3 linked regions of the Homo sapiens genome follow. The protein of the gene in region 2 purifies or fractionates together with the protein of the main gene of each other region. This does not show direct contact. Each region holds a gene or a part of one and is shown on either strand. Other genes may lie near its edges.

Region 1 (3,536 bases), about 28 Mb from region 2:
CCCACCACCACGCCCAGCTAATTTTTGTATTTTTAGTAGAGACAGGGTTTCGCTGTGTTGGCCAGGCTGATCTTGAACTCCTGACCTCAGGCTTCGGCCTCCCAAAGTGCTGGGATTACAGGCATGAACCACCGCCCCTGGCCAAAAAAAAAAAAAAATCTTTTTTTTTTTTCTTTTTTTTTGAGAGGGAGTCTCACTGTCGCCCAGGCTGGAGTGCAGTGGCGCGATCTCGGCTCACTGCAGGCTCCGCCGCCCAGGGTTCATGCCATTCTCCTGCCTCAGCCTCCCGAGTAGCTGGGACTACAGGCACCCGCCACCTCGCCCGGCTAATTTTTTGTATTTTTAGTAGAGACGGGGTTTCACCGTGTTAGCCAGGATGGTCTAGATCTCTTGACCTCGTGATCTGCCCGCCTCCGCCTCCCAAAGTGCTGGGATTACAGGCATGAGCCACCACGCCCGGCCAAAAAAAAAAAACTTTTGTGTTTTGTTTGTTTGTTTGTTTTCTTTTTGAGACGGAGTCGCTCTGTCACCCACGCTGGAGTGCAGTGGCGCGATCTCGGCTCACTGCAAGCTCCGCCTCCCGGGTTCATACCATTCTCCTGCCTCAGCCTCCCGAGTAGCTGGGATTACAGGCGCCCGCCACCATGCCCAGCTAATTTTTTGTATTTTTAGTATAGATGGGGTTTCACCGTGTTAGCCAGGATGGTCTCGATCTCCTGACCTCGTGATCCGCCCATCTCAGCCTCCCAAAGTGCTGGGATTACAGGCATGAGCCACCGTGCCCGGCCAAAAAAAAAATCTTTTAAAAGTAATTTTTTTCACAGGTTCTGAGGATTGGGGAAAGAACAGAAAAAGAAGAAAATTTAAAATAAAAATAATTTTTTAAAGCATCAAGGTAGTCATCAAAGTCAAGACAAATCAGAACTCTGTTGGCTTCTTTTACACTTATTTTACTATTTTATATTGCATTTATTTTGTTTTTGTTTGTTTGTTTGTTTTGAGATAGGGTCTTGCTCTGTCACCCAGCTAGAGTTCAGTGGCGTTACCACGGCTCACTGCAACCTCGACTTCGCCAGCTGAAGTGATCCTCCCACTTCAGCCTCCCAAGTAGCTGGGACTATAGGCACATGCCACCGTGCCTGGCTAATTTTTGTATTTTTTTGTAGAGATGGGGTTTTGCCATATTGCCCAGGCTGGTCTTGAATTCCTGAGCTCAAGCAATCCACCTGCCTCATCCTCCCAAAGTGCTGGGAATACAGGCGTGAGCCACCGCACCCAGCCAATTTTGAATTACCTGAGTAGGGACAATGTAACTTTTCTGGTACTCAGGTTCTCTAAGGATCTTAATCTGGCCCTGCTGGGACCCCTTTCTCCTATAGTGTGATTCTTGGAGCAAATACCCGGCCAGACTTGGATCTCCGAGACCCCATCTGTGATGACTTCTTCCAGTTGTGGCAAGACATGGCTGAGAGCAACGCCAATATCTATGAGCAGGTGGGAACTTGGGAGGGGTGGGGGAGAGTGGCCTGGGGAAATTTGTGGATTATCCTGCTCAGGGTAGGATGGAGAGAAGCGCCACCATACAGTCATTATTGGAAGGGGGATGAGGGCCTGGGGACATTTGCTATCAAGAGATTTAGTGGCCCAGGCCGGGTGCAGTGGCTCATGCCTGTAATCCCAGCACTTTGGGAGGCCAAGGCCCGGTGGATCACCTGAGGTCAGGAGTTTGAGATCAGCCTCCCAACATGGCAAAACCCCATCTCTACTAAAAATACAAAAAAATTAGCTAGGTGTGGCTGGGAGGCTGAGGCAGGAGAATCTCTTGAACTCAGGAGACAGAGATTTCAGTGAGCCGAGATCACGCCATTGCACTCCAGCCACCTGGGCAACAAGAGCAAAACTCTGTCTCAAAAAAAAAAAGTACAAAAGTTAGCCGGGCATGGTGGTGGGCACCTGTAATCCCAGCTACTCAGGAGGCAGAGGCAGGAGAATCACTTGAACCCGAGAGGTGGAGATTGTAGTGAGCCGAGATCGCACCATTGCACTCCAGCCTGGGCAAAAAGAGTGAAACTCCGTCTCAAAAAAAAAAAGAGAGAGAGAGTTAGTGGCCCAGGGTCAACGGGGGGTATGGAGAGATGGTATGGGGGAAGGGGTCTAGCCTAGTTGGACTTAGATTGTTGGGAGAGTCTCCCCAAGCCTTACTGGCGTCCATGCCCCCGCCCACAGATCTTCCGCTGCCTGCCATCCAATGCCACGCGTTCCCTGCGGACTCTCCGGGAGTACGTGGCCGTGGAGCCCTTGGCCACGGTCAGTCCCCCCTTGGCTCGGTCTGAGCTCACCCAGGTCCAGGGCCACCTGGTCCACTTCCCCCTCAAGTTCCTAGAGGATGAGTCTTTGCTGCCCCCGCTGGGTAGCAAGGAGGGCATGATCCCCCTAGAAGTGTGGACATAGTTGAGGCCCCCGTCAGGGAGAGGTCACCAGCTGCTGTGCCCCACCACGTCTGGCTCCCTGCCCCTTAACCCCAAGGACTGAGGGCAGTGCCCTTTGAGATCTGGGGAGGCAGGCATTCCTGAAGGGAACTAGAGGTGTTACAGAGGACCCTTACGTGAGAAATAGCTGAAAAGGGCACTCCCAACCCTGGGCTGGGGAGGAGGAGAGAGTCCCAGAGCTCATCCCCCCTGCTGCCCAGTGCAAACCACTTCTCCATGCTGCAAAGGAGAAGCACAGCTCCTGCCAGGGTGAGCAGGGTCAAGCCTCTTATTCCAGGAGAAGGGGGCTCTGCCCCAGGCCCTACTACCCATTGTTCCCTTCCTCTTCCTGCCCTTGAACCCCCTCCCTGTCCCAGGGCCCTCCCAGCCCATTGCTGCCAAGGTGGAGGGAAGGATAAAGCCACTTCTGGCTTCAGCCCCCACCAGGGGAAGGAAGGAGGGCACATTAACTCCCTCCACCAGCCTGCTGACAGACACTAACTTTGTATCCGTTCAATAAGCATTTCATAAATAAAGGTGTAGAAAAGGTTCATGCGTCTTCCTTGGAGGAACTAACTGCTCGTTCCAGCCTCCCGTTCCTGCCCACACGGGGCACCAGTCCCCTTCACCTTATCTCCACCCTCCTCCACTCTCCTCTCTCCACCTCTGTTCTACCTATCTGTGGCTTCGGGAGCTCGGTCACCTGGCTCCTGAGAGGAGAAGGTGTTGACACAGTGCCGCCTGGGTAGAAGGACGGGCAGGGCCCAACCAGGGCACCTGGAGAACTGTGGAGCTGCTATCACAACCGCAGGTGAGGGAGATGCTCTGAGAAGGACCTAGAGAGGCTGCCTCTTGTTCAAGCAACAGCCCTGGTAGAGGCTTAATGAAGGCCCTGTGGGAGTGGTTGAGGGTATAGGCTTAAGGTCAGGAAGACCTGGACCCAAATCCTGGACTCCTCAATGAGAAGCTAGGTGAACTTGTCAAGTCATTCACTTCTCTGGGCCTCAGTGGTCCCCGCTGGGAAATGGGAATAATACTTACATGACTAGCTTGCTGTCAAGACTCAGC
Region 2 (4,352 bases):
TGCCCAACTGCAATAGCTTTTTCCCCAGATGAGTGAGAAGGGTTTCCAGGTGTGTGTGTGTTGTGTATATGTATGTGTGTTGTGTGTATGTATGTATGCAGTATGCATTGGGTATATATGCATTTAAGTGTATATGTTGGTATACATGTATGTTCATGTATATGTGTGTTGTATGTGTAGTGTGTGTGTGTGTTTGTGTATATGTGTGCTTGTACATGTGTGACTGTGTGGATGTATGTATGTGGGTGAGTGGGAAATGAGGGGCTCAGAGGTCCTCTTCTCCAGAGACCAGATGCAGGGAGTCATCACGCTGTAAGGGTGCCCTCAGGTCAGTGGGGAGGGAAAGCCCATCCCAGCACTGCTTCTCTCCTGCTTGGAAACCCACAGCTCATTCAACAGATCTGGCCAAATTGCCCCTAATTCATCATTACAAAGACGGTAAAACTCCTCTCCACACCCAAATCTCTGCTTCCCCAAGCCTCCTCTCCCCAAAGGATACACACGTTGGTCCTTCTTCCACTGGAGCATCCTCCCACCCTTGGAGTCCCTTCACACTGCCTCCACCACCAAATTCTACTCTCCGGATAATGTCTGGAAAACCCCTTTATCTCATGGAGTAATGGGGCTCCAAGTGTTCCCTGTCCCAGCAAGGGGAATGGGAAAGATGGAGTCTCCTGTCCCTGGAAGTCCTACTCCCCCTTCCCACCCTCTTGGAGAGCTGTGCTTGGCAGACTGGGCCAGGGCTGAGCAGTAGGCACTTCCAGGGAAGGGGCTGGGACACACATGGGATGTCCCTAAGAGGCTGAGGGGAGGATTGTCGCACTGAGCCTACCCTGCTCGCAATGCCTCAACACACATACTCATTACATACAACACATGCACATACACACACACACAAAACACACCAACCACACACCACATCTAGAAACCCTGATATCCATCCACACATCAACACATGCATTTCAAACCCAGGACTCACTAAGTGCACACATACACACACGGAACATACACGTCACCATAGACACTACATCCTGCATGCACCACACTCTAATGGCCACAGCACGCCACCCGCAGACATGCTCACATTCAAGAGTTTCACAGAAATGCCCATTCACACATACACAATGCACATCCTACGCACACCCAATACTTGGCACCACACTCGCAATCGTGTTCAAATGCCCACACTACACAGCAACTCGCTCTCTCTACAGCCCATCTCACACCCTCAGGAGTCCTCTCACCCCTGTCTACACTGGGGCCACATCAGCACAATGGTTATACTACTTATCTCTCCCACAAGCCCATACACCTGAGCACATCTGTACAGCGCATCCCCATCCCGCTCCCCACCACACCCCACCCCCGCACCCGGCCGACTCCAGCAAGAGGCTTCCCGCTCGGTGTGCAGCGGCCACAGTGGCCAGGAATTAAAATGCAGCGAGGAGGAGCCGGGCGCGTCAGCACCGCGTCTCCAGGAGCGCACGGCGCTCACGGCCGCCGCCGCCCCGCCCGCCCGGAGCCGCGGGGCCAGCGAGCTGAGGAGCAGGTGCTCGGAGCCCAGCCGCGCCAGCGTCGCGCGGCCGCTGCCCAAGTTCGCCTGGGGCCCAAAGAGGGTTCTCCCGGGCAACCGGGGAAGGAGCTTAGCCGGCGTCACGGCCACCGCGAGCTCGGAGTCTCGAGAGGAGAAGGGCGCGCGGAGCAGCGAGTCCGGGTCACCCCCGGGAGGTGTTGGCGGGTCCCCGCAGTCCCCAGCTCTTGTCGCCGCGGGGGCAGAGAGAAGACGCGAGAGACAGCAAGGCTGGGCTTTTCTGGAGACGCGAGGCACCTGGGAGAGCCGAGGCGAGAAGCGACACTTCCCTGCGGCTAGCATCCTTGAAGGACCCCGGCGGCGAACAGCCTCCCGCAGGACGCCCTGAGAAGCTCTCAGCCCCAGGCGAGAGCGGGCGCCTGGCAGGACTTAGGCGCAGGACTTGGGGAAGCCTAAGCAGGTCTCTGCCGAGCGCAGCCCAGGGAGCAGTAACAAGGAAGGGTCCTGGAGGGGAAGGGAAAGAAGGCGGCAGCCGGCAAGGCGACCACTCACCCCCGTACACACCCACCCCGCCCGCCCAGCCAGGAGCCGCGGTGCGCCTCTGGGGGCGCTCGTTCCTTGGCGCCTTCTCTCCCGTGTCCCAGCACCGCTGGGCTACGGGCCGGGCTGGTGGGGTCCCTGGGGATGTCCAGATCAGGCATGGTGGCCGAGTGGCCCTTCTCCCAGGACCAGCGTAAAAGCTGGGGTTAGGCGGGGCAGGGGGGACTCGGCTCAGGGTCCCCCGAGGTCCAGGACGAGGGAAGGCGGGCGCAGCACCCAGGGACTGGAGAGGCGGCTCCCAGTGGGACCCCTCCAGAAGTAGTGCCGGGCGCCGGGCATCCTCCAGGAAGACCAGGGGCCGGGAAAGCCTGGGAGGCGCTCGGGAGAGGCCACTGCCAGGGGCTGCGGGCTGAGGCGGCGCTCAGCCCCGGGCGGGCGCCCGCGGAGGCGGCAGCGGCGGCGCCGGGCGGGCATGCCGCGCCACCGGAGCTCCTTTCGGGCGCACGCTTCCCTGGCGCGGGCTGCGCGCGGCTGCCGCTGCTGCTGCTTCCACTGCTGCTGCGGACTCCCATGGCGGCTCCGCCCGGCCGGGGCCGCCGCCGCTGCCGCCAGCCGCGGGCTGAATGAATGAGCCGGATTGGCGGAGCCGGGCTGCCCGCAGCCGCGCTCACCGGCCCGGGACGCTTCCGCATGGCCCGCGAGGAGCCGGCGCCCGCGGCGTTGGCGGCTGCCGGGCAGCCCGGGGGCGGCAGAGGCGGCGAGCGGGCGCTGCAGGGGCCAGGGGTCGCCCGCAGGGGGCGGCCATCGCTGAGCCGCGCTAAACTGCACGGGCTGCGGCACATGTGTGCCGGGCGCACGGCGGCTGGGGGCTCCTTCCAGCGGCGGGCGCTGTGGGTGCTGGCCTTCTGTACATCCTTCGGCTTGCTGCTGTCCTGGTCCTCGAACCGCTTGCTCTACTGGCTCAGCTTCCCGTCACACACGCGGGTGCACCGCGAGTGGAGCCGCCAGTTACCCTTCCCCGCCGTCACTGTGTGCAACAACAACCCGCTGCGCTTCCCGCGCCTCTCCAAGGGGGACCTCTACTATGCCGGCCACTGGCTCGGGCTGCTGCTGCCCAACCGCACCGCGCGCCCGCTTGTCAGCGAGCTGCTGCGGGGCGACGAGCCGCGCCGCCAGTGGTTCCGCAAGCTGGCGGACTTCCGCCTCTTCCTGCCTCCGCGCCACTTCGAGGGAATCAGCGCCGCCTTCATGGACCGCCTGGGCCACCAGCTGGAGGACATGCTGCTCTCCTGCAAGTACCGCGGCGAGCTCTGCGGGCCGCACAACTTCTCCTCCGTGAGTTGCCCTCCGCGCGAACCCGCTCCCTCTGCGCCCCACTCCCCGGCAGTCAGGAGGCCTGGTGTTCCGCCCCCTCGGGGCTGTCCCCAGGCCTCTTGCAGTGTTACCACTCCACGATGCCAAGGCAGAACCCATTCTTGGGTCCCCTGAGTCTTCTCCTGCAGGTTGTGGGAACTTGGACTTAACTGTAGGAGGAGTCGCCTCCCACCAGTGGGAGCTCCCCTGTCCCAGCCCCTCCTTCCAGTGTCAGCCCCCAAAGCCCTCATTCTACTCCTTATGGTCCCGTCTGTGAATATTAGTCAGCCTCCTTCTTCCCGACCTCAACTCCAGGCCCTCAGGACTCCAAGAAACTGCTCTGTGTTTGGAGTGTAGATCTCTTAAGTGCGGACTTCTTGTCTTTGGGAAAACCAATAGACGGCTCTTAAAAAAAAAAAAAAAAAAAAGGAAGCGCTTGAAAAATGGATCATCAGGGGAATCACGCAGAGTCCCTAAGCAGGCCTACGATCCGAAGCAGCTTATGTCTTCAAAGTTCCCAAACACTTAGAATCTAGGAGAACTTGTGAGGAAACTCCCAGAAAACCAACACTGAAGCTGTAGACAGTTTGGTGGGAGAGGCAGCAGCATGCTTTGGCTACTTTTTCAAAATGCAGGAGTCTTGAGCATCCAGCGGAACTGAGCAGTGGTGCGCCAGGGTTGGGCCCTTCACCTGGCCTCCGTCCCCCATAAAATGTAAGTGTGGGTCTTCTGGTCTGGAGGATTGCTCCGGAGTTGAGAAAGCATCCTAGCAGGCATGTGGATGCAAACAGCCGCGGCCAGGAGAAGCTGTGCTTAGGGTTTGTAAACCATTTGCTGTGCCGGTTCCCCCACGCTGTGGGTCTGGATAACGCAGCTGTTGGACAGAAGGTATCTGCCTTGTGCAGTCTGCCTTGGAGGAGTTCTGGTG
Region 3 (3,646 bases), on a different chromosome or scaffold from region 2:
AATTGTTGTATTTTTAGTAGAGATGCGGTTTCACCATGTTGGCCAGGCTGGTCTCAAACTCCTAATCTCAAGTGATCCACCCACCTTGGCCTCCCAAAGTGCTGAGATTACAGTCATGAACCACCGTGCCTGGCCCAAACATAATTTTTAAAAGGCAAATATACAATAGTATGTTTTCTAAATGAGATGCTCTGATTAAATGTGGTATTTAGAGATGCTCCAGAAGTCTGCTGTCTACATCCCTGGACCCAATCTCTACTCCAATGCCAGCCACCTGTCTTAGTCCACTCAGGCTACTGTAACAAAATACCATAGACTAGGTGGCTTATAAACAACAGAAACTTACTTCTCACAGTTCTGGGGGCTAGGAAGTCCAAGATCAAGGTGCTTGCAGATTTGGTGTCTGGTGAAGGCCTGCTTCCCCAGAGGCTGCCTTTTCACTAACCCGTCACTTAGTGAAGAGAGTCAGAGGTCCCTCTCTGGCCTCTTTTATAAAGGCACTAATCTCATTGATAAGGGCAGAGCCACCATGGCCTAATCATCTCCTAAAGGCCTCACCTCCTAATACCATCACCCCTTGGGGTGAGGATTTCAACATATGAATTTGAGGAAGACAAATATTCATACCACTGTACTGCCCTGAAACAAAGCAGTTTGAAAATCACTATCAAGGAAAATTGGAACATACAATCATTATAAAAGCCAGCCCATTTCAGGAGGCCTGGCAGGATTCTGCTGCACAATTCAGTCCTGCCTTTGGATGACTGCATTAGACTATAAGCTGTGGGGCTGGAACCACATTTTAGACTCACTAGCCTAGGCCTAGTACTGTGTTAGCACCAAAAAGACTCTGTGCTTGATAAATTCTTCAACACCATCCTGAAGAGGGGCTATTGCAAATACAGGATGAAAGCTTTCACTGCCAACTTTATTGGCCTTCCAGGCAATGGATCTGCAAAAATTACTTCACTGTCAGTCAAACCTACCCCGTGTATCTGGTGAGATCAGACAGGACGAACATATCCAACATGCGTTTCTGGCATGCCTTTCTTTTTGTTTCTTGTTTTTGTTTTGAGACGGAGTCTCGCTCTGTCACCCAGGCTGGAGTGCTATGGCACGATCTCAGCTCACTGTAACCTCCACCTCCTAGGTTCAAGCAATTCTCCTGCCTCAGCCTCCCAAGTAGCTAGGATTACAGGCACTCACCACCACACGCAGCTAATTTTTGTATTTTTAGTAGAGATGAGGTTTCACCGTGTTGGTCAGGCTGGTCTTGAACTCCTGTCCTCAAGTGATCTACCTGCCTCAGCCTTCCAAAGTGCCGGGATAACAGGCATGAGCCACTGTGCCCAGCCTATGGCCTGCCTTTCTTACAAAGTGATACACATTTCCCTAGTCCCCATGACACTACCAAAAACCACCCCGGTAGAACTCAAAAAAGGTAGGAAACAGGAGTTTCCCCAAATCAGTCTCATTTATGTTACGATACTTTCATGTTTAATCGATCCATTCTATCACAGATTATACACCCACATGACAGATGCAACTGAAACAAGTTTTTGCAAGCTCTCTGAAAACGACAGGAGGCATTCACATAGAAAGCTACAGATTTTATTTCTCATCAGTTGAGAGCAGCACTTTGTTCCAAATTGCAGTAATATCTCAGCAATGAATCATTGTCATAAAAACAGCAACATCTGTGAGGTCAGAAAAGAACAATTAGGAAAACAAATGAATCCCTTGGGAACCAGGGTTCACACTAACATCATATATTTATATAACAACTTGGAAAGGTAGTCATTCAACAAGTAGTTAGTGAGCACCTACTACATGTCAGGAAAGTCCCTACTCTCATAAAGCTTAAGTTCTTGTGTAGAAAACCCAGTAAGCAAGAAAAAGAGAAAAGAAAAAGAATTTCAGATAGTGGTGAATCCTAGCATGAAAATAACCCTAGGTGAAAGGCTGGAACAGGATCAGGTAGCAAGCAATGCAATGTGGACTGTGAAGTGAGGCAGCTTTCAATGGTCAGGGAAAAAACCTTTCCAAGGAGATAACATTTGACCATTTTGTCATTGATCCAAATGACAAAAAAGAAGGAAGCCATGCAAAGACTTAGGAGAAGTGTGCTCCAGGCAGAGGGAATAGCATGATTAAAAGGCCCTAAGATGGAACAAAGCTTGATGTGTTCTAAAAACAACCTTCCTAACAAACTCTGGAGATAGGCAACTGTAGTTCAGAAAGGTGAGAAACAAGTTGATCAAGGTTACACAGACGCTAAAGTAGAAATGAAACTTAGCACACCTGACTCCTCTGATAGTCTCCCTGCAACACGCTAGCTGCCTTCCTAGTTAGAAACCCAGGCTCCAATGAATGAGCATGAGAAATCAGGCCAATGGGGCAAAGAGTGGCCCCTGATTACCAAGTTTCACAGGATCAGAATTTGAGTTCAAACATAAAAATCGAGGCTACCATACAATGTGGCCAGGGTCCAGCAGCCCAGATGACCTGATTCTAAGCAAGGTACACAGGTGCCAGGGCTGGAGAGCAAGAGCCCACAAGAGGGGCCCAGAAGGCACATGGGGTGATCATCAAACTCCCAAGGGAACTTACAAAATACTATTTTGAGTCCCATTCCTCAAGAATCTAAATTTATTACATATGTGATAGAACCTGGAAATTTGTATTTTAAGAAGTTCCCAGGTGATTTTGTTTAGCCAGACTTTGGAACTACTGTGATGGAGAAGGAGGGAAGGCCAGCTCTTCAGGAGGTTGCAGGGAGAATTCTATCTCTACAAAAGGAAGAATCAAGGGTTAAATTGAATGCAGTTGAGACTTGTACCAGACCAGATCATAGGCACAGAGAGATAAGAACATTGCATAACTAAGCGTATTCCTTTCTCCCCAACCACATCCCCAAATTCAGAATCACTGTGACGGTTGACAGAAAAGTGCAGGAGAAATCTCTTTGGTCATAATGAGAAAGAAAGATGGGGTGGAGAAGCTCGGATATACCCCCTGGGCAAAGCCAGTGGTGTGCTGAGAAATGCTTAGCAACCAGGTCCGGGTGGAGGAGAAACCCTAACTGTAGTGTTTGCCAATTTCGATGGTGTAAATATTCCTGGAAGGCCAAGGCAGGAGGATCACTAGGTCAGGAGTTCAAGACCAGCCTGACCAACATGGTGAAAGCCTGTATCTACTAAAAATACAAAATAAGCCTGGCATGGTGGTATGCACCTGTAATCCCAGCTACTTGGGAGGCTGAGGCAGGAGAATCGCTTGGACCTGGGAGGCGGAAGTTGCAGTTAGCTGAGATAGCACCATTGCACTCCTGCCTGGACAACAAGAGTGAAATTCTGTCTCAAAAAAAGAAATTCCTATCATGGCCGCTTCCAAGTTACCAACATGATATCACTAGAACATACAGTTTGGGGAAGACGTGCAATAGTTACAGTATTTTCACCATATAGAAATAATAAACATAAATAGCATAGAGAGCAATAAATTTAGTAAAATAATTAGTAAGTCAGAGGTGTGGGTATTTATTATCTTTTAAAAATAGTTTTAACATCACAGTGATGTTAGTGCCAAAAATATACTTCATCCCCAAATTCTGTACTCCTACCTTACCTCTTACCTCTTTTTATTC

Evidence for each region.
Region 1: the proteins of ASIC2 (region 2) and PLD2 purify together in Homo sapiens (affinity purification with mass spectrometry; one large-scale study listed by BioGRID and IntAct). This does not show direct contact.
Region 3: the proteins of ASIC2 (region 2) and PLD1 purify together in Homo sapiens (affinity purification with mass spectrometry; one large-scale study listed by BioGRID and IntAct). This does not show direct contact.

What each region holds. Positions count from the first base shown.
Region 1 is NC_000017.11:4,820,414-4,823,949, forward strand, and holds the end of PLD2 (phospholipase D2), read left to right. Parts: intron 1-1,379; coding exon 1,380-1,494; intron 1,495-2,226; coding exon 2,227-2,451; 3' UTR 2,452-3,017; downstream 3,018-3,536.
Region 2 is NC_000017.11:33,290,462-33,294,813, reverse strand, and holds the start of ASIC2 (acid-sensing ion channel 2), read left to right. Parts: upstream 1-1,518; 5' UTR 1,519-2,698; coding exon 2,699-3,406; intron 3,407-4,352. UniProt on the Homo sapiens protein: Forms pH-gated trimeric sodium channels that act as postsynaptic excitatory sensors in the nervous system. Upon extracellular acidification, these channels generate rapid, transient inward currents that fully desensitize.
Region 3 is NC_000003.12:171,800,374-171,804,019, forward strand, and holds part of PLD1 (phospholipase D1), read right to left. Parts: intron 1-3,646. UniProt on the Homo sapiens protein: Function as phospholipase selective for phosphatidylcholine. Implicated as a critical step in numerous cellular pathways, including signal transduction, membrane trafficking, and the regulation of mitosis.